Regions from separate parts of the Homo sapiens genome. Here region 2 is linked to region 1. Evidence: fine-mapped expression QTL. A gene starts in region 1. The other region holds a variant in brackets. All regions are shown on one strand. Distances are between the middles of the regions. Region 1 holds the start of SMIM3 (small integral membrane protein 3). Region 2 has its middle 27 kb from the start of ZNF300.

What was found. PIP is the estimated chance that this variant, and not a neighbour inherited with it, causes the effect.
Region 2: its variant is fine-mapped to the expression of SMIM3 in whole blood (INTERVAL, PIP above 0.99).

Annotation. Positions count from the first base shown.
Region 1 is chr5:150,777,262-150,780,173 of GRCh38, reverse strand. SMIM3 (small integral membrane protein 3) reads right to left here and starts at 1,417. Exons shown (of 2, transcript NM_032947.5): 1 at 1,202-1,417. It overlaps LOC124901110, which reads left to right. Exons shown (of 2, transcript XM_047417995.1): 1 at 1-267; 2 at 623-2,912. The coding sequence starts at 1,053. The coding sequence ends at 1,694. RefSeq lists an enhancer at 34-895 and a silencer at 1,333-1,522.
Region 2 is chr5:150,877,017-150,879,928 of GRCh38, reverse strand. It overlaps a transcript of IRGM not described here. Among named protein-coding and RNA genes, the nearest start is that of ZNF300, 27 kb to the left of the region's middle. The variant T/A (reference allele first, on the strand shown) is at 1,518.

The sequences.
Region 1 (2,912 bases):
CCCCCAGAGTACCTGTTCTTCCCGCTCCCACCTCCACCTAATTCAGGCATCCCCAATCCTTCCAAACTATGTGGCCACTGCAGTAGCAGCACGCATCATAGCAGATGTTCAAGGAATCTCTGATACTTGTGTGATTGCGCAGCCTTCACCACCACACCCTGGAGCTTTGAGGACCTTAGTATTCACCACAGATGAACCGGAGACTCCTCAGCCCCCAGGTGCAGCAGGATTCCAGCTGGTCCAGAAGAAACAAGTGCAGCTGCATAAGTAAGAGCCCAGCCTGGCCCTCAATCAGAATAACAGCCCCTGAGGTTTGTTTCAATTTGTGGGGGGGGCGGGGGGGGTTACACCTTTCATCCTTTCACTCAGTACATATGTATGGAGCACCTACTGTTAGCCAGGCCCTGCTCCAAGAGCTGAGAATGCCTCAGAGATGACGATAGACAGGCAGTCCCTACCCTCAAGAAACTGGCATGGGGGAGACTAGGGAGCAAAACAACCAGCAACTGGAACAACTACGTCCTCAGGAAAGGGACAGCTAACCAGCAGGAGGGAGCTTGAAGGAAGCCTTCTCTCCAAGATACTTTGCTCATGTCCTTTCTCCTTTGCTTTCTGCACGCAGAAAATGTTTTCCCAATTTCACTGATGGAAAAACAAGGATGGTGAAGCAGTTAGTGACAGAACCAGGGCTGGAACCCGCCACTCCTGACTCCAAACTCCTGGCGCCTTCTACACGGGGCCTCGAGAAAAGCGGGACAGGTAAGTGCAAAGACCCAAACCCAGCGCAGCGCCCAAGCAGGTGCTCAGGCCCGGGCGCTGAACCCTGACGCTGGGCCTGGAGAGCCAGGAGGTGGCAGTCTGCCCGAGGAGGAGGCTTCCCGAGAAGGCAAGGGCAGCGGACCCGGAGAGAAGCCAGTCTCCGAGTGGGGCTGGGGTTCGCCCACCCAAGCTCCGCCTCCCCCAGGCCCAAAATTCTGTGCACTAGGAGGCTCGAACTTAAGAGCTGACAGCAGGAGAAAAAGGAGGGGGTGAGGGCAAGAAATACAAAAGTGATGAAAAGGGAGAAATGGGGAGGAGAGACCGGACATAAAGAAGAACGTTGGGAGCCCGGGGAAAGGGGCCGCACTAGAGGTAGGTCGCGAATCCGAAGAGCTCCGCTCTGCCAGAGCCCCACAAACAATCCCCCGGTGGCCCCACTCACCCCAGATGGCGGCGAGTCTGCGGAAAGTTCCTGGGTCAGGGATGGCTCGGTGCTTCTCAGGGTCCCCAGGACTGCACGGGATCTGGCAGCTGGAAGCGACCCCCAGGCCTGGAACCTCAGCCCTAGGCAGCTCCTGGAACGTGCCCCGGCTCCTCCGAGCCCCGGGAGGCGGGAGAGCGCAGGAGCGGCCAGGACGCGCTGCTGGCTCTGGAATGCGCGGCTGCTGGGGACCGCCCCCGGAACGCCCGGTCCCGGGGCCCCGGCAACTCCAGCTCAGCTCCTCCTCCAGCGTCCCCTGCGGGCTGCGTTCGGGGAGAAAGGAACCTGCGAGAGAAGGGAGAGACCAGGGCGTCTCGGGCTCCCCTTCCACGTTGCCACACACTCGCCGCGTAGCCGTGGACATGTCGCTTGGCTTCTGAGGGTCTCCCCTCTCTGGATTGTAAACCGAGAGGGTTGGCCTAAAATGTGTCCTCCACGACCTTTCCAGCTATAGAGTAGACATGGGAAAGAAAGCCTAGCAAGTAGGTTTGGACAGAGGAGCCGGGACTCAGATCCTGCTTTGCGATGTCCGAAGTGTAGGGTCCTTCGGAGGCTTTGCCACTCTGTTTCATTCTCTGTAAAGTGGGAAAGGTAACACCTGTCTCCCAGTCCTGTTGTGAGGATTGGTTTAGAGGACCAGTGTGAAGCTGGTTGGTTCTCTGCCATAACATGACTTGGAGCATCCTGTTTATTTTGTGATAACAATGAAATAGCCCAATCCAAGGTGATCAAGAGCCCATTAGAATCCAGCATCTGAGAGGCTTCCCACGCCACTGTGGGTGGCCCAGCTTCCACGCAGGACAATGCCAATTCTGTAATCTTCTGCCCCCTCTATGTCATCCATGGAGTGAGGGGGGACTCCCGTCCCATGTTGGCACCCACACTTTTTAATTCACAGTGGTTTTCTTTAATCTTACTCTTCTGAAAAAAAGGAGCACAAGCCTTGACTATCAGTGAGACCTTGAGCAGTCTTGGAGCCCAGTAGTGTTTTGGAGGGTTTGGAAAGAGCCATACTGCCTTCCCCAGGCCTAAATTTGATATGGTGTGGGCCCCGAACTTAGAACTTACTCCATGCTGTTTCCTCTGATTCAGGGATGAGGTCAGCAGAAATGACCTCTAAATCATCATTATCACACGCCAGTTTCTTAAGGGAAGGACAGTGAGGATGAAGGGGATTCACATGAGAAATGATTTGAGAAAAACCCTAAGGGCTGTCACCCAACAACATGTTTTATTCAAAAGAGATAGTGTGGGAACCTAAAAACAAGGACAACCCAATTCTGAATAGTTTAATACAAAGCTCTCATTTAATAGTAAAAAAAGATTGAAGGAGGACAATCTTTTTTTTTTTTTTTTTTTTTTTTGAGACGGAGTCTCGCTCTGTCGCCCAGGCTGGAGTGCAGTGGCATGATCTCGGCTCACTGCAACAGGAGGACAATCTTAATATGACATTTTCCCTGGTTAGTGAAGGGGATGAGAGTTCCTTTGGGTGGACAACTGGTAACTCCATGTGCCCTGCTGTGAACATTGGCTTCCCTCTGGGACAAGGCAGAAGCTCAGGCCTGGAGCCAGCTGAGTCCTAGTCTCCCTTTCCATTTAGCAATTTATTAGTATCTCTTTAATATCGACTTGCCCTGGGACCCTAAAAGCAAGCCAGAAATAAAGTATGAAT
Region 2 (2,912 bases), 100 kb before region 1:
CTGAGGGTAATTCTTGAGTTTAAGACACACCTTAGTCTTACAATATACTGCTTCAACACAAGCTATCTTTTTATCTGGTACTCAGCTGAAGAAGCCACCCTAAGAAGTAAGTGTACCCTTGAATTTTACCTTGGGCTCTTTCTCTGGAATCTCATGCCTTGGCCTACCCCATCACAATGAGCTGTGACCCACACTATGTTTTATAAAAAGTGATCTTAGCTGTTGCTTCTATCCTTAGTGTTCATTGTGTATTTTCACTGTAGAAAGTTTCTAAATACTTACATATTTCTGGGCCTTGTGGAATTCTCTGGAGTACTCTTGAGGTATTTCTCATGGCAGGCCAGCTGCAAGAGAGTGGGTAGGGAATGTGAGCCTTGTGGAAGTTATACCCCCAGTGCCTAGCCAGCACAGTGCCTGGCCAGACTAAGTACTTGGCAAGCATTACTTTTTAAATGGATGAATGAATACATTGCTTTCATTCAAAGAGGTTAATGATGACATATTCTTAACACATGAATAATTCTTTAGTGCTTAAATTACCAATAAATGCAAAGAGAATCTGAAAACAAAGATTTTTCTAATTTTTCTGATTGACACTGGTGTTTCAATGCACATTTATGTAATACAGACCTCATCTACATTTCTTACTTCTGATGGAAGCAAGTAAGCCAGTTTAACAAAAATAAACACTGGCATGCAATTAAATTTTTGGATAACCTGCACATCCTTGGAAGCTTCATTTACCTTTCCCTTTTTACTCATTACCTTTTCTTATGCATCTAACACTGACATCCATCTCAGCTACCATCAGCATTTTGGATTTTTCTTACTGATATGAACATTTTTATGCAGTTGTTTTTAGAATTTCAAGAGTCAAGAGTGACCTAAGTAATTACTAGGTGTTTTAACCCCTAGTGTGTATTTTTGCATAATTTAAAGATTCCAAGTCATTGAATTTTGCTAGTATTTTTTCATTTGCTTCATTAAATCAATTATACCTCTTGTAAAAAGTAAACTTTGTTTTCCTTAGAGCCCTGGAAACCAACAGGTATACCCACATTGCAGCCACTTATTTCTTTCTTACTGAAAGAATCCTAAGAGACAATAATAATTATTCTCATAACAAATTTTAAATAATAATAATATAACAACAATAATTATACATTTATCTTTTCCAATAATAATAATTACACAATAATAATAATTATATAGACCTTATAACAGTAATAAATATACATATTTGGATGCACAAATCAGATGTATTCAGAATTGGGAATACCCTTCAGTTTTACTACAATTCTACAAATTACCTATATCTAAATGGATAAAGATAAATTCTAAATAAATTTCATAGTGATGAGCTCAAAAAGTAAACCCTTTCTATGTTTTTATTTTAAGTGGAAAGTAATATGGCAAAAAAAGGTGGGAAGATGAGGAGAGAGGAGGAGGAGCTGGAAGAGAGGAAGAGAGGAAGGAAGAGGTAGAGGAAGGAAGAGAGAAGAAGGGTAGTCATTTAT[T/A]CCTGAAGACAATAATGGTGGTAAAAATTCATAGCAATGGCAACAAACACATGGAGCCCTGTCCTAAGTATGTCACATCTATTGATTTGCATATCTTTCACCACAATCTCATGAGGTAGAGAGTATTATTACTCCCATTTTACAGATCAGGAAGCTGAGTCAGGAAGTTGGGATCACTATTTGTACTCTCTAGCCTCACAAAGTTAGGAAGCATTAACAACAACAACAACAAAAAAAAAAGTTTACTATTTCCAAACTTTAAACTTACTAAAATCAGTGAAGATTTTTTTTTCTCACCTGAGCTGGGCCTTGCTATTTCTAGGGCTTGCGGAGCTGATCTGTATTTCTTTGTCTTGCTTTTCTCTCAGGATCCTTTCAGCAAGCAAGAGGTACGTGGCTGTGGTTTGGGTACACTTGTTGGTTTCTAGAGCTCTGAGGAAAACAAGGCTTGCTTTGTACAAGAAGCAAAATTGATTTAAACATGCAAACAAAAAAGTATAAGCAAATGAAATTCAATGACCTGAAATCTTTAAGTTATGCAAAAATGCAAACTAGGAAACTAAAACACCTAGTGGTTATTTAGGTCACCCGTGAAATTCTGAATAATAAAAAATAAAAATGAGGTAATTATTCAGAGGGCTTCATAAGGTTGCAGAGTGAAGTCACTGCCCTATAGGGTTAGCAAGCATGGTACCCAACCTATCCTCAGGTGTCACTGTCTTAAAACCTATGTGATCCTGGGCAGGCTACTTACCCTCTCTGTGTTTTGATTTCTTCATCTTTAAAAGGGGAATAATAATAACACCTACTACATTAGGGTTCTCTAGAGGGACAGAACTAATAGATGTATATATAAAGGGGAGTTCATTAAGGAGTATTGACTCACATAATCACAAGGTGAGGTGCCACAGTAGGCCGTGTGCAAGCTAAGGAGCAAGGAAGCCAGTCTGAATACCAAAGCTGAAGAACTTGAAGTCTGATATTCGATGGCAGGAAGCATTCAGCATGAGGGAAAGATGTAGGCCGGAAGACTAAACCAGTCTAGTCTTCCCACGTTCTTCTGCCTGCTTTAATACTGGCCTCACTGGCAGCTGATTAGAATGTGCTCACCCAGATTGAGTGTGGGTCTGCCTTTCCCAGTCCACTGACTCAAATGTTAATCTCCTTTGACAACACCGTCACAGACACACCCAGGAACAATACTCTGCATCCTTCACTCCAATCAAGTTGGCAATATTAACCATCACAAGTCCTCCCCTTGTCAACTTGAACCCATATACATCTCCTGAAACCATACATAATCTTCAAACAAAGACAATAATAAGGTCATAATTACACCTAACATAATGCAACTATTCTTCGTACAACTGGAAATGCACCAATCCCCAACCCAAA